Linked DNA regions of Homo sapiens: regions 2, 3, 4 and 5 are each linked to region 1. Evidence: fine-mapped expression QTL. A gene starts in region 1. Each other region holds a variant in brackets. All regions are shown on one strand. Distances are from middle to middle.

Region 1 (5,000 bases):
CCCTTGAATCTGGGAGGTGGAGGTTGCAGTTGCAGTGAGCCGAGATCAAGCCACTGCACTCCAGCCTGGGTGACAGAGCTAGACATCATCTCAAAAAATAAAAAATACTGCCCACACCAGGAACTTGGGATCCATGCCTTCTTCCTTACCCCTACAATCTGAATTTTTTTGTTTTTTTTTTTTTTGAGACGAAGTCTCGCTCTGTTGCCCAGGACGGAGTGCAGTGGTGAGATCTCAGCCCACTGCAACCTCTGCCTCCCAGGTTCAAACAACTCTCGCACCTCAGCCTCCTGAGTAGCTGGGACTACAGGCATGTGCCACCACACCTCGCTAATTTTTTTTTTTTTTTTTGAGATGGAGTCTCACCCTGTTGCCCAGGCTGGAGTGCAGCGGTGCAATCTTGGCTCACTGCAACCTCTGCCTCCTGGGTTCAAGCGACTCTCCTGCCTCAGCCTCCTGAGTAGCTGGGATTACAGGTGCGCACCACCACACCCGGGTAATTTTTGTATTTTTAGTAGAGACAGGGTTTCACCATGTTGGTCAGGCTGGTCTTGAACTCCTGACCTCATGATCCGCCCGCCTCAGCCTCCCAAAGTGCCGGGATTACAGGCGTGAGCCACCGTGCCCAGCCTAAATTTTGTATTTTTAGTAGAGATGGGGTTTCACCGTGTTGGCCAGGCTGGTCCTGAACTCCTGGCCCCGAGTGATCTGCCTGCCTCAGCCTCCCAAAGTACTGGGATTAGAGAGGTGTGAGCCACTGCACCTGGCCCCCATTACTTTAATTTCTAAGGTATAAACCTGATGATGTCAATAACCTGCATAAAACTTGAATCACTCACAAGTGCCCTCAATAAAGTCCAACTTCCTTGGGACAGCATGCCCAGCCCTTCATGGTCCGGTCCCTATTTACATCTTTTTTTTTTTTTTTTTTTAAGACAGAGCCTCGCTCTGTTGTCCAAGCTGGAGTGCAGTGGCACGATCTCAGCTCACTGCAACCTCTGCCTCCCGGGTTCTAAGGGATTCTCCTGCCTTAGGCTCCAGAGTAGCTGGGATTACAGGCGCACACCACCATGCGCGGCTAATTTTGTATTTTTAGTAGAGACGGGGTTTCACCATGTTGGCCAGGCTGGTCTCGAACTCCTGACCTCAGGTGATCCACCAGCCTCGGCCTCCCAAAGTGCTGGGATTACAGGCGTGAGCCACCACGCCCGGCCAAATGCCTGTTTTTCAAAGGTCCTGTCCTCTCTCTTGCCTCTGAAACTTGCTGTTATCTTTGCCTTCCCTGTGCCTGGCTAAGAACTCCTGTTCTTCAGGTCCTAACTAAGATGTCCCCTCCTTCGCTGACTCCTCAGGTGGAGTTCGGTGCCTCTTCTCTGTGCTCCCCTAACACTCTGAGCTCTGACACGGAGAGAACTTCGGTCACTGGGAAGGGTGACCCGATCAACCCCACGGCCCCAGCCCCTCAACACTTCCTCGAACACAGTAACCTGCTTGAGAGATTAAGTGAGAAGTCTGTTTTAACAGGTTGCATCCTTCTCCTTGCAACCCCTGGCGCCCCACGTCGCAGTAGCAACCGCAGGCCCCGCTCAGAGGCTGGGGGAGGGGAGGCGGGCAACCAGTCGTGCAGGACTCTTCCCCCAGAAAAGATGAGGAAGGGACGGGGCAGGGAAGAGCTTTGGGTTCTCGGCAAGAAAATGTATCCTTGCAGCCGTCTCCATCAGATTCAGCCTCCCCGCTCCGACGCACCCTCCCCTCTAGGAGTCCCACTCAAACTCTCCACATCAGACTTCCTCAGAATCTTCCCATCAAGATTACCTCACGCTTCCCCCACGCGATCCCCTCTTGGTCTCAGCCTCGATCTCCCTTCCTCGCAGCCTCCTCCCTCAGCCTCGACTTCCCCCTCGCAGCCTCCTCTCCGAGCCTCTCCCCAGCGCCTCAGCCTCCCGCAGCCTCCCATCGGCGCTCCAGCCTCAGCCTCCAGGTTCCCGGTCCGGCCCGGCCTGGCCCCGCCCCCGCCGCGAGGACGGTGCTCACCGTCGTAGTAGTAACAGACTTTCCTCCGGGTGCCCTGCGTCTGCGCCATCTTGCTCGCCTCCCGTCCCTACCGTCAGTCGGTCCGTCCGCCCTCCCGCCCGCGGCTCCGCTCAGCGTCCGACCCAGGGGGGAGGGGGCGGGCCTCCGGCCCGCCCCGCCCGTCCCCTCCTGGGCTCACCTATAGCCGCGCAGCCCGGGCACCGCTCCAGCCAATCAGCTTGCGCAGACACGGGCCCGGAACTCGGCAGGGGGCAAGGGCAGCCCGGAGAGGCCGCCGAGGGCCCCCTGGGCCTGTACCAAGGTCTGCGACAGATGGGTGGGGAGCCGCCCGGGGACCGTACCATCAGTCCCGGGGGAGGAAAGCAGCTCTGTAAACTTAACAGTCCCACTTCGTCGTGAAAAGCGTGCTTGGAGATCGGAGGCCAACTTTCTGATTTTACGGAGAATAAACCGAGGCCTACAGGGGAAAAGTGACTTGCACAAGGTCACTCAGCCAATAAAAGGGCTGAACCTGGGTTAGAAAGCGAGTTTGTGGCCGCAAAGGAGGGCTACAGAAAAATAATTAAAAAGAAAAGCAACACGCGGGTTTGGAGAGGAAGAAACCGACAAGAAAGGGAAAGAAAGCTAATGTTTGTCGAGGGGCTGCTGTGTGCCAAGTACTGTGCGACACTTTACCAATGTTATTTCAGTTTTTCCTCAAAACAGCTCTCGGCCAAGGGCTTTTTACCTCCATTTTACAGGACAGGATAAAGAAGTTCAGACTTCTGTGAATTATTCAAAGTTACACAAAGTAATTAAATTCAATTTTTTAATTGTACAGGGTTTTTAAAATGCTTTCTTTGCACCAGAGGCACTGTAACAAAGTGACAGAACCCAGCCTTTCAGACTCCAAAATCTACCTCCCTGATGCAGTCACCCAGGATGACTAAGTAGGCGTCTCTTTAGACAGGAGGAAATGGGATTATCCTATGATAGGAGGGCAGGTTTCCTTTCTTTTCTTTCCCTGTTTTTTTTTTTTTTTTTTTTTTTGAGACAAGAGTTTCGCTCTAGTTGCCCAGGCTGGAGTGCAATGGTGTGATCTCGGCTCACCACAATCTCTGCCTCTGTGTTCAAGCGGTTCTCCTGCCTCAGCCTCCCGAGTAGCTGGGATTACAAGCATGTGCCACCATGCCCGGCTAATTTTGTATTTTTGGTAGAGACTGGGTTTCTCCGTGTTGGTCCAGGTGGTCTCGAACTCCTGACCTCAGGATCCGCCCACCTCGGCCTCCCAATATGCTGAGATTACGGGCGTGAGCCACAGCGCCCGGCCTAGGAGGGCAGGTTTCTCAGCCTGGTAGCTAATGACATTTTGGGCCAGGTAATGCTTTTTTGTAGGAAGCTATTCTGTGCATTAACAGCTTCTGTGAAGCTGTTCTGTGCCTGGGCAACTAGAGTGAAACTCTTGTCTCAAAAAAAAAAAAAATTAAGCAGCATCCTTAGCCTCTACCCACTAGATGCCAGTAGCACCTTCCCCCCAGGCTGTGACAACCAAAATTGTCTCTAGACATTGCCAAGTACTGTGCAATAGCTTTACCATTGGGTTGGGGGGAAGATTAGTGGGGTGTAAGGGAGTGTAAAATTGCCCCCAACTCTACCATTAAGAACCACTCCACCAGATCATCAATTATCAACTGATCATCACTGAAAGCTGAAAGACCTAAAAGTGCAATGCTGGGCTATTAAAATAACTACAATAATGTCAATATTTAATGAGTGCTTCCTGTGTGCCAAACATTGCTCTAAGTTAGCCGCCAACTTGTGGTCCTACAGTCAACAAGAGGCTGGGCACAGTGGCTCACGCCTGTAATCCCAGCACTTTGGGAGGCCAAGATGGGTGGATCACTTGAGCTCAGGAGTTCGAGACCAGCCTGGGCAACATGGCAAAACCCCATCTCTACAAAAAATAGAAAAATTACCCAGGTGTGGGGGCGCGCTCCTGTAGTTCCAGCTACTCAGGAGGCTGAGGTGGGATGATGGCTTGAGCCCAGGAGACAGATGTTGCAGTGAGCCAAGATCATGTCACCACACTCCAGCCTGGGCAATAGAGCCAGGCCTTGTCTCAAACAAAAGAAAACAACAAGATACATCTTTATGCCTCTTTAAAGAGTGTTTGGGACTTGTGTTTCTCACTCAGAAACTGCATTTGAGTCATTAATTATAAGGTAACAGAAAATCTAAGACTGGGTGGCTTATAATAGAAACAGCAAAGGGCCAGGGAACAAATTCTACTCCCAGTTCTCTGTTGCTAATTCTCAGCTAGCCCTGGGTGGGTTTACTTAACCATTCTGGGCCTCCATTTCCCTTGTTATAAAATGGGGAGGAGGCCGGGCACAGTGACTCATGCCTGTAATCCTAACAATTTGGAAGGCTGAGGTGGGCAAATCACCTGAGGTCAGGAGTTCGAGACCAGCCTGCCCAGCACGGTGAAACCCCGTCTCTATTAAAAATGCAAAAATTAGCTGGGCGTGGTGGTGTGTGCCTGTAGGTCCCAGCTACTTAGGAGGCTGAGGCAGGAGATTCGCTTGAAACCGGGAGGTGGAGGTTGCAGTGAGCCGAGATCAGGCCACTGCATTACAGTCTGGATGACAGAGTGAGACTCTGTCTCAAATAAATAAGAAATAAAATAAAATAACAAAAATGGGGAGGATAGGAATACAAAGTTCACCCACGCTATGGCTGTACACAGTATCCCAAAGAGAAGGAGTGTGGGGATCAGATGAGATCATGAGGTGTGGCAGCAGGTCAGTCAGGTGATAGATTTACATTATTATGACTCAGATGCTCTTTGTTTGCATATATATATGTATATATATATATATAATTTTTTTTTTTTTTGAGATGAAGTCTCACTCTGTCGCCCAGGCTGGAGTGTAGTGGTGCGATCTTGGCTCACTGCAAGCTCCACCTCTCGAGTTCACGCCATTCTC
Region 2 (5,129 bases), 35 kb before region 1:
AGGGCAAAGATCATGTCTTAGATATTTTTGTATCCAGCAGAAGACCTGACCCATAGAAGGAACCAATAAATATGGGTGTTTGTTCCCCTAACTGACCACACAGCAATCCAGGGTTCAAACACTTCTATCTCCCCACCAGCTTTAGTAAGGAGAGATTCCTGAGGTATGGTGGGGGTGCTTTGCTCCCCTCCACCGCCAACCAATCCCCTGTTTGTAGCCCAAGGGGTGGATAAAGCCACTTACCGGCTTGAAAATGGCCTCATAGGACTCGTCATCAATCCCGTCTCGGAGCGGGTAGTTAACAGCATAATACTTGCCTTTGCCAGCCCCGATATCCTAATTAAAAAGGCCATTAAAGTAAAACTGAAGGATGAAGCTTGAAGGAAGGTCAAGGATAGGGGCTGGAGGGATAAAGGAAGAGGTTCAAGAGAGACAAGCTAGGCCCATGATGTGGGCCAGGACAGAACAGAGGTACCTTGTTAGTACCATTCTCTTCACTGGCAAATCTAGCTTCACTGGCAAATCATCTCTGGACATAGCATTAAGCCTACCCCCAGACTGAGAGCTCTTGATGGGACCAGAGATTGAATAGCCTACCCTATAGCACAAGATTTCTACCTTGGGATTGGGTTAGAGCTGGCTGGCAGGTGAGTCACAGAAGTGACAGCCACCCTTGACAACCCTTTCCACTCCAGAGAGCTCTAATGCTCACTCCTCTTCCCCCATGCTCCCTCTCTAGGGTGTTGTGGAGGGAAGGAGAGAGGTAAGAAAGTCCTTCCCAGTAACCTCAAAATAGTGAGTGCGCCTATTTAAGTCCAGCACTTTGGGAGGCTGAGGCGGGTGAATCTTGAGGTCAGGAGTTCGAGACCAGCCTGGCCAACATGGCAAAACCCCATCTCTTTTAAAAATACAAAAATTAGCCGGGCATAGTTGCACGCACTTATAATCCCAGCTAAATCCCGGCTATTCGGAGGCTGAGGCACAAGATCGCCTGGAGGCGGGAGGCGGAGGCTGCAGTGAACCGAGATCACGCCACTGCACTCCAGGCTGGGTGACAGAGAGAGACTGTCTCAAAAAAAAAAAAAAAGTGAATGCTCATTTATTCTAACGCTTGCCATGGCAAACAACTGAATTAGTGCCACTTTTTTACCCAAGGGCTACCAGGCATGGCAAAGCAGCTGATTTCACCACATTCATGCTAATAGAAGCAGATGGAACAGTTCAACGAAGTAGCTTCCAAGGATTCTTATCCTAAGGTTCATGGATGGGCTTCAGTAAGGGGACTTGTCTATTAACTATTCTATATCAGATGTAAAATCTCATGTACTTTTCTGGAGAGACAGTCCATAGTTTTCAGTCAAAAGGCTAAAGGGGAAAGTGACCCAAAAACATGAAGAACACTTGAGATGTCCTTCAGAGTCCCAATTCCTACCCCCAAACTCAAGGCTTATGAGACATAAGAATAGTGTGATGCAACCCAGCTGTGGCCAGGAGGAAAGTACAGTGAGTCAGGAGACCCCTCTTCTTTCTCTGGCCCTTTATGTCCCATCATTCCCTTCCTCCAGAATAAGGAAGGGAAAGAGATCAGGGCAAGTGCTTCAGATTGGGATGTGGTATTCTGATTGGCAGAAGAGGCAAGAAGCAATTTTTAGTGGCATGAGATAGGAGAGAGAAGTAGAGCTGCCAGCTGAGGGTAAGCCGGTTGGCTCCTAAAGGGCGTTCTCACCCGTAGGTCCCCAGTTCCTGGGAAGTACTCTCCATACTTATGAAAGGACACAGTCATGACCCGGTCCGTGGTGTAGAAGGCCTCTTCCACGCCGTCACCATGGTGAATATCAATGTCAATGTACAGCACCCTCTGGTGATACCTAGGATCAGAAGGGGGTCAGGGGTCTGGGGGCTCTTTGGGGATGGGACGTGCCAAGGGCGCTAGCTCCCAGCTTACCGGGCTGGCTGCCTCCCTCAGGTATCTCTAAGCACCAGAGACGTGGAAACTGGCTGAAGGAAGGTGGAAGAGCGGCCGGGTGTCTCCAGAGGCCTGACCAAGCCGACCAAGTCC[G/A]ATCTTCCTACTCTACAGCCAGGGTCAACTCCAGCCACACAGGGACACTCTGGAGGCAGGATCTGAGCAGCATCTGCCCCTGATCATGCCGTGGCTCAGATCAAACCAAGACCCCATCAAGGAGATGATGGCCAGAGACACTCACCGAGCACATCCTAGCCAGCACATCGGTAGGAAAAGCAAACTAGGGAGGCAAGCCCAGGGGAAGAGGGAAATGGGAACCTGGCCTAAGGTGCTCTTCCAAGAGACAAGGCCAGGCAGGCATACTTTAGCAGTTCCAGGATGGCCAAGACGATATCATTGACGTAACAGAAGCCAGATGCCTCGGACTTCTTTGCATGGTGCAGGCCCCCAGCCCAATTCACAGCGATGTCCGTCTGCTGCTTATTAAGTTTCACAGCACTTGCTGGGCATGAGAAAAGAGAACATAAGCCTGTTACTAAGCCACTCTCCCCTTCCTCCAAGAAGCCCAGGGAACCTAGTGAAAGGTTAAGACCTGCCTATTCAACAGCTGTATTGTGCAATTCATAGACCAGTCCCCTCCCTCCCACCCTACTTCAGCAGGGAATACATGATACTGTCTACTCGTAAAAAACGATTTTCCAAACTGAGGGTAGTAACCCATTAGCAGGCCTTAAAATTGATTTAGTACATCATGATTAGTGTGTGTGTGTATATATATATATATTTTTTTAATGAAATAGCATAGAAAAAAATATCAGAGTAACAGTAAGGGTAACTGCTCTTTTGTAAAACTCTGGCTTCAGAGTGAGTGAGTGTGTGCATGCATGCATATGTTATATGTATCCTGGATTGCATGTGTAAATTTATTTCTTACTATGGCTCATGGTCAAGGAACTTTGAAAAAATACCAAAGATAGGCCATGCGCGGTGGCTCACACCTGTAATCCCAGAAGTTTGGGAGGCCAAGGCGGGCACATCACCTGAGGTCAAGAGTTCGATACCAGCCTGGCCAACATGGTTAAACCTCATCTCTATTAAAAATACGAAAAAATTTAGCTGGGCGTGGTGACATACACTTGTAGTCCCAGCTACCTGGGGAGGCTGAGGCAGGAGAATCGCTTGAACCCAGGAGGCGGAGGTTGCAGTGAGCCAAGATCACGCCACTGCACTCCAGCCTGGGTGATGGAGGGAGACTCTATTTCAAAAAAAAAGAAAAAGAAAAATTACCAAAGATAGTGCTGATACACTAGGTCAAAAAGCACTAGCACGAATAGGTCCCAGAAGAAGTAAAAGATAAATACACACCCATGTGTGCAAGTGCATTTGTGGCAGTGTTAATTTGTTGTTGTTTTTTGAGATGGAGTCTCACTCTGTCACCCAGGCTGAAGTGCAGTGGCGCGATCTCGGCTCACTGCAACCTCCGCCTCCCAGGTTCAAGCAATTCTCCTGCCTCAGCCTCCCAAGTAGCTGGGATTACAGGCACACACCACCACGCCCGGCTAATTTTTGTATTTTTTAGTATAGATGGGGTTTCACCATGTTGGTCAGGCTGGTCTCAAACTCCTGACCTCAGGTGATCCACCCTCTTCAGCCTCCCAAAGTGCTGAGATTACAGGCATGTGCCACCGTGTCCAGCTGCAGTGTTGATTTTAACAGCAATAAAAGCATAGATTGATCCAAATTATCAAGAAGAGGGACAGATTATATCAACTCAAGTAAATCCACAACATGGAATAATCATAGAGCCACAAGAAAGCAAGCTGTAGAAAACTACAGACAATTTCGTTAAGTAGGAAATGCAGGCATAAAACCATATATATGTGATATGTATATAACCCACTTTTGTAAAATATAGATGTTGTATATGTGTGACACAGATATAAACACACACACAAAAGAATGGCCATACAAACACCAACATGGTAACAGAGGTTATCCACCAACCCTGTGACTGTGGGTGATTGTGTTTTTTTCTGTGCACTTCTTTGTTTTCTGTGATTATATTGGTGGGGCAGCGGGGATGGACACAATGATTATATTGGTGGGGGATCACAGGAAAATAAATATTTGTTAAGAAAGCGTTTAGAGTAATCCTGGAGATAACCCAAAAGTTGCAAATGGAAGTGGGAGATACATGAGGAGTATTTCTGACCTCTAAAGGTAATTACCATACTTTTTCATAGGACAGATTCACAGATGATGACACTTCCATTTTTATAGCACTTTGCAGTTCACAAATTGCTTTTACGTACAGCATCTTAACAACCCCAGGAGGTCTGCGGGGAACGCCTGTACATAAGATCTCTTAGTAGGAAAGGACAGTCAAGGACACCTGTCAGTACCATGTCAGAGATTGAACCTGGGCTGGGACTGAACCAGAGGGACATTTTAGAGGCTTTTTAAATTTTTTTTTTGGAGGCAGGGTCTTGCTTTGTTGCCCAGGCTAGAGTGTAGTGGTGTGACCACGACTCACTGCAGCCTCAACCTACTGGGTTTAAGCCTCAGCCTCCTGAGTAGCTGGGACTACAGGCACGAGTCACCATGCCCGGCTAATTGTTTTTACTTATTTTATTTTTTTATAGACAGGAGGGTCTATGTTGCCTGGGCTGGTCTTGAACTCCTGACCTCAAGCAATCCTCCTCCTCAGCCTCTCAAAGTGCTGGGATTACAGGTGTGAGACACTACACCAGCCATTTTAGAGACTTCAGTAAAAACCACAGGACCATTCTACATGGTTTCAGATCAGCCAACTAGGATAGCAGCCTAAAAGGCAGACCTCACTAGAACAACCCAGTCTACCCCTGGGGAGAAGATGAATATTCCTTACCCACAGAACCACCAGTAGACAACTGACAGAACTCAAACAGGCCATCGAATACTGGACAGTCCTCACCAACGTTGACTTGAAAGAAATAAGCAAAAGGTTAGTTTCCACAATTTCCTTTAGTTTACATATTTATGAGCTGATGGAAAAAAACACAGAATTTAAATTCAGGAGGTGTGGGTTCTAGTCCAGGCTCTACTTCCTGGCTGTATGACTGCATCAAGTTGTTTAACATCTTTGAGCTTTAGCCCATTATTATTTTTTTATTTTTTAGAGCCAGGG
Region 3 (5,129 bases), 42 kb after region 1:
GAGGTGAGCAGGTAGCAACTATGCCTCCCCAGTCTCTCTCCACCTCCCTGGGGTTTGAAGCAGGAATCAGCAAAACCAACTGGCCCTACACAGGCAGGGCTGAAGCGGGAGGGAGCCAGGGGCGAGGGGAGGACATCCTGCTGTGACGCTTGGCAGGGGCAGGAATGGTGACTTTCCAGATGGAAGTTCAGCGCTTCCTCACCCAGGACCAACTGCACCCCTGTCTGGGATAAAAATAGTACTTCCTCTTCCTTTCTCCCATCATTCTCTTTCACTTCCAACTTCCCATACTCAGATCAGATATGTCCATCCACCCTGGAGCTCCATCCCAGATGATGGACACCCCCACACATATCAGTTCACGCCCATCAGGAGATTCTTCCCTCGATCGCTGAGGCTAAAATCACTCCTCGCATGTCCATCTGGATGCCTTGGGTGATCTCTGTCTCTCTCTCTCTCTCTCTCTCTCTCTCTCTCTCTCTCTCTCTTTCTCAGGAGATTCTTGTCACTGGGGTCTGCCCCAGAAACCAGAAGGATTCCTGGGTCCTCTGAGTCCAGCCTGTCCATCACCCTGCTCCAGGCGGGGTGGCCACAGCCTCAGCCATCACTCTCAGCCCTGCCACTGCCTTGCTGAGAAACCGTGGGCAGTGAGTGCCTTGTTCTCTCTGGGCCTCAGGAGCCTCATCCTCATGGCCTGAGGGACTGGGCTTGGTGGTTTCTGGAAGCCTTTTTAACACCTGACTGTCCATGTGCCTGGTGTCCAGGAAACACGCTCCCAGTCAGGTGGGGCCACTGGTGGACAGCACGACAGAGGCAAGCGACACCAGCTTCGCAGGAAAGAGGCGACCCAGCTACACTGCCTGCCTCCCACCTGACCTTGAGCGAGGATCTTCTCTCCCCAGCCACAAAGGGCTGCTGCATCCCTAGGGAGCCTGGGCCCGCACAGCTGCAGCCGTCTGCTATCAGGCCTCTCACCCCGGCGCCTGCGCCCCCAATACCAGCGCTCCTTACCTGCCCAGCCCGGGAGCCCTCTGGCCCCATTCACATGGTCCTCCTGGCCTAACCTGGCTGCCTGGACAGTCTCAGCTCCCTTCGCCGTCGTAGCCACCACCTGTCTCCCCGCGCCCACGTCCCACCCTGACTTCCTGCCTCCTCCGGAGGGCTCCGCAGCCAACCGGGCCCCAGCAGCCCAACCACAACCCTCTAGCACGCCAAGCTTCCTGCCACCATAGACCCCTGCCTCTCAGCCCCTGGGGGTCCCCTACATCTCCAGACCAGGTCCATCTTCCCCTACTGTCCCAGGGTGACACTGGGAGGTTTAAAGTTGAGGGGAGGATGTCTGATAGACCCTCCCTTCTGCCCTCCAGGGTGCATCTGGGCAAGAGATTCAAGGGCAGCCTTTGGGCCCAGTGAGCAGGGGGCAAGCGGACACACACTCAGCTTATGGTGAGAGGCAAACAGCACCTCAGCACCACCGTTGCAGCTGAGAGACCCTTTTGTTTCTGTCTGGCAGCAAAGGTAGCATCGTTCAGAGTCAGAGGAGAGGACAATATCCCTGTTAAATAGCTGGTGAGCAGACCATGCATGTTACAGTCAGGTCAGGCCGAGAGAACAATTCCCATGTCATCTCAGGGCATGGAACAGTAGCTTTATTATAGTCAAGGGTAGGTGAATGGCAGGCTACCATCCCTCTTACAGACAGAATGCTGGAAAACAGCCTGTTTCAGGAGGCAGACAGGACAACCTCATGTCTTCAAGAGGGCATAGTAACGGCCCCTGCTGTAGTCAGAGGCCAGGACAACACCCATTAATCATGGTTGGAGAGTAGGGCAACAGTTCGAATTCAGGTAGAGGCAAGGCCACAGCCCCTGGCAGAGGTGGAGGGCTTGGCACTATCTCCTGCAACAGGTGGAAGACAGAGCAAACAGGGCCGCTCAGGCCCCCAGGTGCAGGCCACAGACTGTCAGGACTTTCTGTTATAAGCAGGAGGCAAGAAGATTGTCACGAGCAGCAGGCAGGCAAAGAATTTCCATTTCCCCTGGGGCCAGGCTGAGGGGGCACCCATCATTAGCTGAGGGCCAGGTCACCAGTGATATGAGGAACTCCAGGTGGCCTCATCAGGTCCAAGAACTCGGCCTTGACCCCACCAGGAGGAAAGTGCACATGCGTCACTGCCTGAGTGAGCTGGTAGGGGGAGGGGAACCCACAGAGCATTGTTGGGGCTTGTGAGGTGGAAGCGATGCTGTGTGCACCTCAGCTGCAGAGAGAAGTGGGGGCAGGAAATAGGTGGGGGGAAGAGGAAGCCTGAGTTGGAAAGTCAGACAAAGAGGGTAACACAGAAA[C/A]AAAGGCTGAGAGAGACAAAGTGAAAAACCTTCACAGTGACACAGAGCCTAGAGTTGGAGCTCCAAGCCTGGTGCAGGGCCCAGACTCCCTTGCAATGTAAGCCTGAACACTTCACGGTCCATCTCCCTGTCTCAGCACAGAGTAGAAAGACTGCCGCGCTGGGAGTGAGTAATAGTTCATATTCACTGAGCGCTCACTGTGCACTATCTCCCGTAAGGCACATCTGCTGCCTGTGGAGTGAGAATCAGCATCTCCATTGTGGAGGTGAGGAAACAGACTCAGGGGTTAAGGGAGCTCCTCAGGGTCGAATAGAAATAAACGGTGGCTCAGGCCTGTAATCCTAGCACTTTGGAAACCCCAGGCAGGTGGATCACTTGAGGTCAGGAGTTTGAGACCAGCCTGGCCAACATGCTGAAACCCTGTCTCTATTAAAAATACAAAAATTAGCCGGGCATGGTGGCGGGTGCCTATAATCCCAGCTACTCGGGAGGCTGAGGCAGGAGAATCGCTTGAAATCGGAAGGTGGAGGTTGCAGTGAGCCAAGATCGCGCCACTACTCCAGCCTGGGCGAAAGAGTGAAATTCCATCTCAAAAAAAAGAAAAAAAAAAGAAAAGAAAAGAAAGGAAATTAGCTAGGCGAGGTGGTGGCCACCTGTAATCCCAGCTACTTGGGAGGCTGAGGCAGGAGAATCGCTTGAAATCAGAAGGTGGAGGTTGCAGTGAGCCAAGATCGCGCCACTACTCCAGCCTGGGCGAAAGAGTGAAATTCCATCTCAAAAAAAAGAAAAAAAAAGAAAAGAAAAGAAAGGAAATTAGCCAGGCGAGGTGGTGGCCGCCTGTAATCCCAGCTACTTGGGAGGCTGAGGCAGGAGAATCGCTTGATCCCCGGAGGCGGAGGTTGCAGTGAGCTGAGATTGTGCTACTGCATTCCAGCCTGGGTGACAGAGTGAGACTCTGCCTCAAAAAAAAAAAAAAAAAAAGAAGCAGAAGAAATAACAACAACAAAAAGAAATAAACGGGGTAGCTGGCTTTGAACCCATGTCTCTCAGATTCTGCATTCTTCAGGAGCCCAATTTACCTAAGTCACCTCCCATGGGCCTGCAGTGAACTAGGGTGGTCCCAGTGACAGGCGACATTCAGATAGCGGCCTTGGGCCTGAATAAACGACTGCAAGAGACCTTGATGGGAACCAGAGAAAGCGTTTATTGAGGAGTTTGAGGGTGTGAGCTCCTCCTCCTCCCCCTCCCAGCTGGGTCAGCAGAGGAAACAGGATGCTGGGGTTTTGCACTCTTGGAATTCAGCTCTCAGAAACCTGAATGTTCCTCCTCCCCCGCCAGGAGCTGGTGCCTCTGGGGCACCCCTCCCTTTCCTCTTCCCAGGCAGGCAGGGGAAGCGGCATTGGGAGAGGGGGCGGGGAGTCGGGGGGCACAGGTGTTCCTCAGCAGAGGGTGAAGCGCCGGGCGCTGATGTTCATGCGCGTGAGGCCCAGGTGCCGCAGCAGCGGGGCCAGGGCTAGGCCGGCCCCGGGCTCCAGCTCCAGCTCCAGCTCGGCCTCATCCAGCAGCTCCTGGTGCAGGTGACAGGCTTGGTCCATCTTCAGTCGGTGCAGCTGGGCCCGCAGCCGCAGCAGCTGCCCTGCCAGCTGCCTGTCCTGCGCCTGCATCTCCCGCTGCGGCCGAGAGGGGGCGTGAGCCTACTGGACAGGCCCTCGGCCGCGCGCCGTTTCTCCCTTCCTGGCAACGCTGGGCCTTTGCACTGACTGTGTCCTCCCCAGCCCCCTCTCACCTCAGCTTGATCTCTCCCTATCTCCCAATCTGGCTTCACCTGGTGGTTCTCAAACCCAGCTAAGGAGTCATTATTAAGCAAATCCAACTGCCTGGGCCCCATCCCAAATCAACTAAGCAGAATCTCTGTGTTGGAGCCTGGGTATCTTTATATTTGCACATGTTGAGTTGGGAGCCACCTACTGAAACTTCACCTCTTCAGAATCTGCCTGCAGCATGGCCAGTGCCTCCTTTTGCACTTCGCTGTATCTTTAGGCCATAGAAAGTCCCAGAGTAGGGGAGGCTGTGTATTTCCCTATTTATAATGGTGCCCCACACCCCCCAACACCAGTGCTCTGTCCCCTAAGCAACAGGAGCACAAGGTCAGTAGATTGGATGGAATCCTTCTTCAGCAAGCCTCCCTGAATACAACACTGGACAAGTCCATTCCCGGCTCCTCAGCCCAGGACACCGGAGCGGGCGGTTGCTGGAGGCAGGGTCCATTCTCATCCCTTCCCCATGCCTGTGGTCTTGGACCCTAAGGAGGACCAGCCTGAAGGCCCTGGGCAAAGCTGCCCACCCCACCAGACTCACCAGCTCCCGTCGGAGCCACTCAAGGGCGGAGTCCATTGAGTCGAAACCACAGATGTCCCCAGGTCCCCCTGGTCCAGGTTTGGCTTGGGCCCTGCGCCAGGCCTGGCTCTGGACCTGGGCTGTCCACTCCAGATATGAGGGCCGCCGAGTCTGCAGCTGCAGCTTGGCTGTCAGTGCCTTCACAGAGTCCAGGCTCTCCCCCTCCTCATCCTCCTCGTCCTCTTCACCCACTGCCTGGAATTTCAGTAGCCCCAGGGACATGGCAGGTTTGAGGTGAGTGACAGGGCAGGGCTGCAGCTCTGAGATTAGGGAAAGGCTGGCAGTATTGCCCAGGGAGAGGTGGCAGAAGTTGAGGGTGAGAAGAGCGTGCCAGGGAGTGTGTGGTGGTCAATGTTCAAGGTGGGTTAGGGGGGCTGAATGTGCCAGGGT
Region 4 (5,129 bases), 210 kb after region 1:
CCAGCAAAATAAGAAAACCAAGAAAGAGGAAGACATGGGATTCAGGAAGCAGGGGGTCCAACCCAGGAGGGCAGCAAAGGGAAGTCCCAGGCTGAGAGCTGTACAGCAGACCTAAAGAGCAAACACTCCAGACTGCAGCAGGAGGAGGAAGGGCTCCAGGAGGGATGCCTTTGTAGGGGGAAGCAGGGAGAAGGAAATGGACTCCAGGCAACAGGCAGTATGACTGAGAGGCTGGATAAACTTGAGGATATGATGAAGGCTCATCATTCTTTTGTCAATAAGAAAAAAGAAAGGCAATTAGAAAGTCCAAGAAAAATAAAAAGCCATATAAGAAAGCTATGGTGTAAACATGAAGCAAACTAAAATGTGCTATGATTTTAAGTAACTGATAGAATGTAAGAAAAATCATTTCACCTTGACACTAGGAACATTTGTGTGTGTGTGTGTGTGTCTGTGTGTCTGAAACAGGGTCTTGCTCTATTGCCCACGCTGGAGTGCAGTGGAACAATCTCAGCTCACTGTAACCTCTGGCATTAGCTGGGCATGGTAGCCTGTACCTGTAGTCCCAGCTACTTGGGAGGCTGAGATGGGAGGATGGCTTGAGCCAGTGAGGCAGAGGTTGCAATAAACTGAGATTGCACCACTGCCTCCTGGGTTCAAGCGATTCTTATACCTTAGCCTCCTGAGTAGCTGGGAGTACAGGTCCTTTAAAGAAGTCCTTTAAGGCTGGGCACGGTGGCTCACACCTGTAATCCCAGCACTTTGGGAAGCTGAGATGGACGGATCACGAGGTCAGGAGATCGAGACCATCCTGACTAACACGGTGAAACCCCGTCTCTACTAAAAATACAAAAAATTAGCCAGGCGTGGTGGCGGGCGCGTGTAGTCCCAGCTACTCGGGAGGCTGAGGCAGGAAAATCGCTTGAAACTGGGAAGTGAAGGTTGCAGTGAGCCAAGATTGCACTATTCCACTCCAGCCTGGGCAACAACGGCGAATCTCCATCTCAAAAAAAAAAAAAAAAAAAAAAAAAAAAAAGAAGTCCTTTAAAAAAATGTTCCTGCCGGCCAGGCGTGGTAGCTCACACCTGTAATCCCAGCACTTTGGGAAGCTGAGGTGGGTGGATCACCTGAGGTCGGGAGTTCGAGACCAGCCTGACCAACATGGAGAAACCCCATCTCTACGGAAAATACAAAATTAGCTGGGCATGGTGGCGCATGCCTGTAATCCCAGCTACTCGGGAGCTGAGGGAGGAGAATCACTTGAACTTGGGAGGCGGAGGCTGCAGTGAGCAGAGATGGCGCCATTGCACACCAAGGCTGGGCAACAAGAGCAAAACTCCGTCTCAAAAAAAAAAAAAAAAAAAAAAAACCAGGCTGGGCGCGGTGGCTCACGCTTGTAATCCCAGCACTTTGGGAGGCTGAGGCGGGTGGATCACGAGGTCAGGAGATCGAGACCATCCTGGCTAACACGGTGAAACCCCGTCTCTACTAAACATACAAAAAACTAGCCAGGCGTGGTGGCGGGTGCCTGTAGTCCCAGCTACTCGGGAGGCTGAGGCTGGAGAATGGCGTGAACCCAGGAGGCAGAGCTTGCAGTGAGTTGAGATCGTGCCACTGCACTACAGCCTGGGCGACAGAGCGAGACTCCGTCTCAAAAAAAAACAAAAAACAAAAAACAAAAAAAGTTCCTGGCTGGGCTTGGTGGTTCATGCCTGTAATCCCAGCACTTTGGGAGGCCAAGATGAATGGATCACTTGAGGTTGGGAGTTCGAGACCAGCCTGGCAAACATGGCGAAACCCCATCTCTACTAAAAATACAAAAAATTAGCTGGGCGTGGTGGTGCACACCTGTAATCCCAGCTACTCGGGAGGTTGAGGCAGGAGAACTGCTTGAACCTGGGAGGCGGAGGTTGCAGTGAGCTGAGATTGTGACACTGCACTCCAGCCTGGGTGACAGAGAGAGACTCCATCTCAAAAAAAATAAAAATAAAAATAAATAAATAAAGAGGTCCAAGACTGTAACTCTGTAACTACAGAGAAGAAATGTCATGTATGCATACTACTGGGCCCTGGAGTGAATGATATTTTCATACACATAATTATATCAAAGCCACATACTGGTTTTTAATTTTCAGAATTAGGCTTAGACAAAGAATGGAAGGCTTAAATGTGGTTACATAGGAGAATGTGAATGTCAAGCTTGACGATATAAAAGTAAAAATACAGCTGCCAGGAAGTGAAAAGAGGAAGAGGGGAGGAAAAGTGGTTGGATAGGGTGCCTAATATTCTTGTCTTACATAAAAAGTATTCAAGATACTATTGTTGATGGAAAAAAAAAGTATAGGGATACTTATACTATTGATGAAAATAACCAACAGAAACTTAAAAATATTAAAAGCTATCAATTACTGGGAACAGTAAGGATGGGATCGTGAGCTAAATCATCTGTCATTGCAGGGAATCAATATACTTGCATATGTGTGTATGTGGTATGTTTGTATATGCGTAGAA[C/G]ATTTGTTTCCAGGATATACAAGAAACCAAAAACATTGATAATTACCTCTTGGAAAGGAAACTGGGTGGCTGGGAGGCAGCAGTCAAGGGGAGACTTTTTCATGGTATACTCTTTTAAACCTTCTGAATTTTAACTATGTAAACCTCTTATTCAATTCTAAAATAAATCAATAATTTTCTTTTTTTTGAGACAGAGTCTCACTCTATTGCCCAGGCTGGAGTGCAGTGGTGCAAACTCAGCTCGCTGCAACCTCCACCTCCCAGTTTCAAGCAATTCTCCTGCCTCAGCCTCCCAAGTAGCTGGGACTACAGGCGTGCACCACCACACCTGGCTAATTTTTGTATTTTTAGTAGAGAAAGGGTTTCACCATGATGGCCAGGCTGGTCTTGAACTCCTGACCTCAAGTGATCCATTCACCTTGGCCTTCCAAAGTGCTGGGATTACAAGCGTGAGCCACCACGCTTGGCCAATAAATAAATTTTTAAAAAGAATAAGCAGGCTAGGTACAGTGGCTGATGCCTGTAGTTCCAACTACTCAGAAGGCTGAAGTGGGAGGACGGCTTGAGCCTGGGAGGCAGAGGTTGCAGTGAGCCGAGATTGCACCACTGCACTCCAGCCTGGGCAACAGAGCCAGACCCTGACTCAGGGTCTTGTCACTCAGGCTGGAGTGCAGTGCCACTTTAGAACTGGATAATAGGTTTACAGACTCTGTCTGTAAACAAACAAACAAACAAACAAACAAATAAAAAAACCCAGAAAGTAAAAGAGACTGCTATTGAAGAGTGGGACTAAAAATCTGGAGGCGGGATTGGAGACTAATGTTTTTCTATGAAGAGTGGGACTAAAAATCTGGAGGCGGGATTGGAGACTAATGTTTTTCTATTTATTTATTTATTTATTTTTAGAGACAGGGTCTCACTCTGTTGTCCACGCTGAAGTGCACTGGTGTGATCATGGCTCACTTCGGCCTCAAATCCACCAGCTAAAGCAATCTTCTCACCTCAGCCTCCCAAGTCACTGAGATCACAGGCATGAGCTACCGTGCCCAGCAATGGTTTTCATTATAAGCTTTTCAGCACTATTGGATTTAATTTTTTACAATATGTTTATATTTGGTCAATAAACATTTTTAAATTAAATAATGAAAAATAAAGCATAATATGACATTGGGTGTTATCTGCATCCATGAAGAAAAGATTCACCAGGTAGTAACCATAAACTGTCAAATTAAGGCAACTCTTTTTTTTTTTTTTTTTTTTGAGACAGAGTCTCACTCTGTTGCCCAGGCTGGAGTGCAGTGGTGCAGTGGTGCGATCTTGGCTCACTGCAAGCTCCGCCTCCCAGGTTCACACCATTCTCCTGCCTCAGCCTCCCGAGTAGCTGGGACTGCAAGTGCCATCCACCATGCCCGGCTAGTTTTTTGTATTTTTTTAGTAGAGACGGGGTTTCACTGTGTTAGCCAGGATGGTCTCAATCTCCTGACCTCGTGATCCACCCGCCTCAGCCTCCCAAAGTGCTGGGATTACAGGCATGAGCCACCGCGTCCGACAGGCAACTCTTAAGTTCTAACCAGTGCAACCCTTTCGAAGGACAATTTGTTAATAACTATGAAAAATCTAAATGAATCCATCTTTTGGTGTAGTTAATTCTTCTGGGAATCTACTGTGCAGAGATACTGGACACATATGCAATTATTCATTGTTATGAATAAGGAAAAGCTAGAAACAACTTAAAAGTTTGCCAGTAGGCCAGGCACGGTGGCTCACGCCTGTAATCACAGCACTTTGGGAGACCAAGGTGGGCGGATCACGAGGTCAGGAGATCGAGACCATCCTGGCTAACACGGTGAAACCCCATCTCTACTAAGAATACAAAAAATTGCCGAGCATGGTGGCTCATGTCTGTAATCCCAGCACTTTGGGAGGCCAAGGCAGGCGGATCACCTGAGACCAGCCTGACCAACATGGAGAAACCCCATCTCTACTAGAAATACAAAATTAGCTGGGCTTGGTGGAGCATGCCTGTAGTCTCAGCTACTTGGGAGGCTGAGGCAGGAGAACTGCTTGAACCCGGGAGTTGGAGGCTGCAGTGAGCCAAGATTGCACCACTGCACTCCAGCCTGGGCAACAGAGCAAGACTCCATCTCAGAAAAAAAAAAAAATTGCCAATAGAAGACAAATAAATTGTGAAAATTCTATAACATAGAATACTGCGAGGCCATTAAAAAAATGAGGCAGCAGGTCATGATGGCGCATGCCCATAGTCCCAGCTACTCAGAAGGCTGAGGTGGGAGGATTGCTTGAGCCGAGGAATTCTATGCTATAATGTGCTATGCCGATGAGGTGCCTGCATAGAAGTTCAGCATCCATATGGTGAACTCCTGGGAGTGGGGGACCACATAATTGCCTAAGGAGGGGATGAACTGGTCCAGGTTAGAAATAGAACAGGTTGGCCAGGCGCGGTGGCTCATGCCTGTAATCCCAGCACTTTGGGAGGCCGAGGCGGGCAGATCATGAGGTCAGGAGATTGAGACCATCCTGGCTAACACGGTGAAACCCTGTCTCTACTAAAAATACAAAAAATTAGCTAGGTGTGGTGGCAGGCGCCTGTAGTCCCA
Region 5 (5,129 bases), 24 kb before region 1:
CAGGATAATCGCTTGAAGCCGGGAGACGGAGGTTGTGGTGAGTAGAGATCGCCCCATTGCACTCCAGCCTGGGCAACAAGAGCGAAACTCTGTCTCAAAAAAAAGTGGCAGGGGCGGGAAATAACACCAGAGGGGCTAGGAAACCAAGGATTCAAACTAAGACATGAAAGCTTATTTTCTTACTTTAATAGCAAGTTGCTCCTCTAGTGAGAGCCCACTGTGCTGAGAGTAGAGCCTGATCCTTGGCCTAAATGGGTTATGGAAACCTCTAAAGCCATCTACAGGAAAGGCATGAATTTGCCTCATCTTGGAGGGAAATAAGACCCTGCAATTCAGAGAGCAAACACCTCACTCACAGCAGCTGGCAGCTCCTGGAGTTGTCGGTAGCAAAGAAGCTTAATGCTTCAAGGAAGGTCTCTGTGGTTCTGCCATCAATACCACTGTACAGTTATTATTAGTTGTAATAATAGTTATAAATAACTTTCTTCCTTGGGAGTAAGACTACCTTGTGGTCAGCAGCAACAAACAAGTGCCGCATATTTTCTGACACTTCCATATAAGCTGTCATAAGTTAATCAAAACTTCTTCTGGACAGTGCTGTTATACTATATGAAGTCTTAGGTGCTAAGAGATAATTTCTAAAATAACACAAGGGGGAAGTCAGGTATGATAGTTTTGTCCCAAATTTGAATACTTTTTTTTTCCCCCTCACAGCTAAAATAATTCCCACGATTCCTACAAACTAAGCGTGGCTTCCAAGATGGGACCTGCTCTGAAGTTCAAGTCCAAGGGATCAGGGGCAGCATCACCTCATCTCAAAGATTACACCATCTAGAATCTGTCCTGAGTGGCCTCTAAATTCTCAATTAATACCCACTAAGTCAAAACAGTTACAGTTGGACAGAAATCAGAGATCATGTGGCCCAGCCCACTTTACAAAAGAAGAATCTGAGGGGAAGTGACTTGCCCACTCAGCTGAGAGTTAGAGTTAAATTTTACTGTATCTATTGTCTCCCCGTCCCAGGTCAGTGCTTTTTCCACTACAATAATTACAGTACTCTTGGGACAGTGTTGTGAACATAACCAGAAAAAGTACTACCTCTATCGTTTACAAATCAGGAAACATGAAAAATCCGACTTGAGGGGAAAAAGCACTCTGGCACCTTTAGGAGGTAGGGGAAATCAGGTGTCCACTGAATGGGAGGTGCGAGGACGGCAGAATGGGCCTCTACAGTGGAAAGGGAGATGCAACTGGCGGCTTCAGAGTGTGAGGGAACAGAATGGACTTACATCTCTGCATCTGCTTGCTGTACTCCGACATGTTATCTGGACGGATGGAGCGCAAGAATTTAATGTAGTCATCGCTGTGGTACTTGGTCATCTCCTCAGCATTGGCTTTGTGAGGGCGCTAGAGGGCAGAAGGGAGAAAGGGCAAGTTATTTTTGACCACGGCCAGTCCAGTCAATCTAGTTTGAATATTTATATTTCCTGCGCAGCATGGAGCTAGGTGCTATAAAGAATAAAAAGAAATAACTGGTTAGATTCAGGCTTCAAGAAATTTACAATCTAACTAGGCAAACAAGATTATCAAAGGAGACAGAGTATCAGAAGACCTACAGCAGCTCAAGCTCTGTTGCTTAGGCAAGTTACTGTCTCTTGAACCTCCATTTCCTCATTTACTAAACAGGGACAACATAGACCACACAGGGAAGTTGAGAGAATTGGAAGAGGTTGTTAAATCTCTTTGTAAACTGTAAGGTGCTTTACAAAATTATTACTTTTTTTTTTTGAGACGGAGTCTCGCTCTGTCTCCCAGGCTAGAGTGCAGTGGCGCAATCTCGGCTCACTGCAAGCTCCGCCTCCCGGCTTCACGCCATTCTCCTGCCTCAGCCTTCCAAGTAGCTGGGACTACAGACGCCCACCACCACGCCCGGCTAATTTTTTTTGTATTTTTAGTAGAGACAGGGTTTCACCGTGTTAGCTAGGATGGTCTTGATCTCCTGACCTCGTGATCCGCCCGCCTCGGCCTTCCAAAGTGCTGAGATTACAGGCATGAGCCACCAAGCCCGACCTTTTTTTTCGTTTTTTTTTGTTTGTTTGTTTGTTTTGAGGCGGAGTCTCACTCTGTCACCCAGGCTGGAGTGCAATGGCATGATCTCGACTCACTGCAACCTTCGCCTCCTGGGTTCAAGCGATTCTCCTGCCTCAGCCTCCCGAGTAGTTGGGATTACAGGCGCCCACCACGACGCTGGCTAATTTTTGTATTTTTAGTAGAGATGGGGTTTTACCATGTTGGTCAGGATGGTCTCGAACTCCTGACCTCAGGTGATCCGCCCTCCTCGGCCTCCCAAAGTGCTGGATTACAGGCATGAGCCACTGCGCCCGGCCTACAAAATTATTACTTATTATTATATAAAACTGGCCGAGTGCAGTGGCTCACGCCTGTAATCCCAGCACTTTGGGAGGCTGAGGCGGGTGGATCACCTGAGGTTAGAAGTTCGAGACCATCCTGACCAATATGATGAAATCTGG[T/G]CTCTACTAAAAATACAAAAATTAGCTGGACGTGGTGGCATGCACCTGTAATCCCAACTACTCAGGAGGCTGAGACAGGAGAATCGCTTGAACCTGGGAGGTGGAGGTTGCAGTGAGCTGAGATTGTGCCACTGCACTCCATCCTGGGCAACAAGAGTGAAACTTCCTCTCAAAAAAATAAATTAAAAAAAATATATATGTATATATACGTATTATAAAATTATGGACAAAATGGCTCCAAGAGTTCACGAAAAAAGGGTATCTAATGAAAACTGAAACAGATGGGAAATCCTTTATAAGTCATCACATCAACAATTTTGATCACATCCTCCCCACTAACACTTCCTTGACAAGCTAATTTCCTGGTTATCCCAACATTCTGACTCCTCCTTCCCTTTTTAAAATTATTTCCTTTTCCTCCCATCCCTTAAAGGTAGGTCTTCTTCAAACATGACCCTCTGCCTCTCTAATTACCAATACAACAAAAGTCCTCACTTAATGTCATCCACAGGTTCTTGGAAATTGTGACTATAGGCAAAACAATGTATAAAGAAACCAATTTTACCATAGGCTAATTGATATAAACAAGAACTTAAGCTCCTACAGCATATTTCTGTCACAAAAACATCACTAAAATTCTAAATAAAGACCCAAAACACTTCAAACATCAAATACTGAAATAAATGTGAAATATCCCTTTTTTTTTTTTTTTTTTGAGACGGAGTCTCGCTCTGTCGCCCAGGCTGGAGTGCAGTGGCGCGATCTCGGCTCACTGCAAGCTCTGTCTCCCAGGTTCACACCATTCTCCTGCCTCAGCCTCCCAAGTAGCTGGGACTACAGGCGCCCGCCATCACACCTGGCTAATTTTTTGTACATTTAGTAGAGATGGGGTTTCACCATGTTAGCCAGGATGGTCTCGATCTCCTGACCTCGTGATCCACCCGCCTCGGCCTCCCAAAGTGCTGGGATTACAGGCATGAGCCACCTTGCCCGGCGAAATATCTCTATATTTAAGAAATATTTATAAAAATAAGGAAGATCATTATTGGGCTGGGTGCAGTGGCTCATGCCTAAAATCCCAGTACTTCGGGAGGCTGAGGCAGGTGGATCACTTGAACCCAGGAGTTTGAGACCAGCCTGGGCAACGTGGTGAAACCCTGTCTCTACAAAAATATAAAAAATTAGCTGGCTGTGGTGGCACTTGCCTATAGTCCTAACTACTCAAGAGGCTAAGGTGGGAGGATCACCTGAGCCCAGGGAAGTCCAGGCTGCAGTGAGCTGTGATCTTGCCACTGCACTACAGTCTGGGCAACAGAGCAAGACCCCGTCTCAAAAAATATATACATTATTATTTACCCAATTTTTGGTGAATCAGTGAGTGATGGCGGTTGTTGTGGTGGTGGGTTAAATCAAATAATAAATGTATGCAAAGTTAAAATTGCAAGGAGAACCTTCTACCATCATGCAGTTCAAAAACGAACAATAACAAATATGGCAGGCTCGCTGAGTGTTTCTGTATCACATCTTTTATTGTTGTGCATCTGTATGATTATTGTCTACTTTATGAATTTTTACTTGACAATAATTTGAATTCAATCATTCATTTCCAAGGGTGGCCAGAGCCTGTCCCGCAGCTCAACACAAGGAACCAACCTTGGACAGGACGCCATTCCATCACAGGGTGCACTCACACCCATATCCACACTTGCTCAGACTAGGACCATGGAAACATGCCAACTCACCTCACATGCACATCTTTGGGATGTGGGAGAAAAATGGAGTACCCGGAGAAAACCTACACAGACATGGGGAGAATATGCAAACACCATACAGATAGTGGCCATGCCAGGAATCAGTTATTTTTCTCCTCAACGTTATAACTAAATGATGCTGAGCGAAGTGATGTTATTTGAGAACCTGCCATATTTTCTGCAGTTTATAAAGCATTTTCAATACACAGCCAACATTTATTGTTTCCTCTGTGACAGTCACTCTTTCAGGCACTTTAAACGCTATCTCATATGATTCTTACAACAACCTTTTAAAGATCTAAGCCCTGGAGGATCGCTTGAGCCTAGGACTTCAAGGCTAGCCTGGACAACATAGTGAGACCCTGTCTTTTTCTCTTTTTTAAAATAATTATCGGGGCCAGGCGCAGTGGCTCACACCTGTAATCCCAGCACTTTGGGAGGCCGAGGTGGGTGGCTCACCTGAGGCCAGGAGTTCAAGACCACCCTGGCCAACACAGCGAAACCCCATCTCCAATAAAAATACAAAAATTAGCCGGGCGTCATGGCAGGTGCCTGGAATCCCAGCTACTCAGGAGGCTGAGGCAGGAGAATTGCTTGAACTCGGAGGCAGAGGCTGCATTGAGCTGAGATCATGCCACTGCGTTCCAGCCTGGGCAACAAAGCGAGACTCCATCTCAAATAAATAAATAAATAAATAAATAAATAAAATAAAATAAGTTATTGGGCAATCTCTCCAGGCCAGAATGTGTTCAGATTCCTAAGACCCCATCTCTGAAAAACAAAACAAAACAAAAAAACACCTTTTAAAGTTCATGGCCAGGTGCGGTGGCTCACGCCTATAATCCC

Alleles and levels. Alleles are on the strand shown, and positions count from the first base shown. SD is a standard deviation of normalised expression in the study named. Not every link is listed here.
As copies of A replace C in region 3, the expression in visceral fat of the gene that starts at base 2,170 in region 1 goes down (small effect, 0.18 SD a copy in GTEx).

The links. PIP is the estimated chance that this variant, and not a neighbour inherited with it, causes the effect.
Region 2: its variant is fine-mapped to the expression of HDAC1 in whole blood (INTERVAL, PIP above 0.99).
Region 3: its variant is fine-mapped to the expression of HDAC1 in visceral fat (GTEx, PIP above 0.99).
Region 4: its variant is fine-mapped to the expression of HDAC1 in whole blood (TOPMed, PIP 0.93).
Region 5: its variant is fine-mapped to the expression of HDAC1 in whole blood (TOPMed, PIP above 0.99).

The regions. Positions count from the first base shown.
Region 1 is chr1:32,289,253-32,294,252 of GRCh38, reverse strand. It overlaps HDAC1 (histone deacetylase 1), which reads right to left and starts at 2,170. Exons shown (of 14, transcript NM_004964.3): 1 at 2,035-2,170. The coding sequence starts at 2,083. RefSeq lists enhancers at 731-1,305, 1,377-1,436 and a silencer at 2,047-2,456.
Region 2 is chr1:32,324,275-32,329,403 of GRCh38, reverse strand. HDAC1 (histone deacetylase 1) reads right to left here. Exons shown (of 14, transcript NM_004964.3): 4 at 4,851-4,925; 5 at 2,327-2,465; 6 at 1,727-1,868; 7 at 244-336. Among named protein-coding and RNA genes, the nearest start is that of MARCKSL1, 9.4 kb to the left of the region's middle. The variant G/A (reference allele first, on the strand shown) is at 2,060.
Region 3 is chr1:32,247,254-32,252,382 of GRCh38, reverse strand. FAM167B (family with sequence similarity 167 member B) reads right to left here. Exons shown (of 2, transcript NM_032648.3): 1 at 4,701-5,129; 2 at 3,527-4,012. The coding sequence starts at 4,961. The coding sequence ends at 3,782. LCK (LCK proto-oncogene, Src family tyrosine kinase) reads right to left here and starts at 1,118. Exons shown (of 13, transcript NM_005356.5): 1 at 1,012-1,118. RefSeq lists enhancers at 1,766-1,855, 1,906-2,115, 2,306-2,515, 3,744-3,903. The variant C/A (reference allele first, on the strand shown) is at 2,343.
Region 4 is chr1:32,079,317-32,084,445 of GRCh38, reverse strand. The region is part of intron 5 of TMEM39B (transmembrane protein 39B); the gene reads right to left. Among named protein-coding and RNA genes, the nearest start is that of MIR5585, 5.1 kb to the left of the region's middle. The variant C/G (reference allele first, on the strand shown) is at 2,512.
Region 5 is chr1:32,312,944-32,318,072 of GRCh38, reverse strand. HDAC1 (histone deacetylase 1) reads right to left here. Exons shown (of 14, transcript NM_004964.3): 3 at 1,291-1,408. Among named protein-coding and RNA genes, the nearest start is that of MARCKSL1, 21 kb to the left of the region's middle. The variant T/G (reference allele first, on the strand shown) is at 2,533.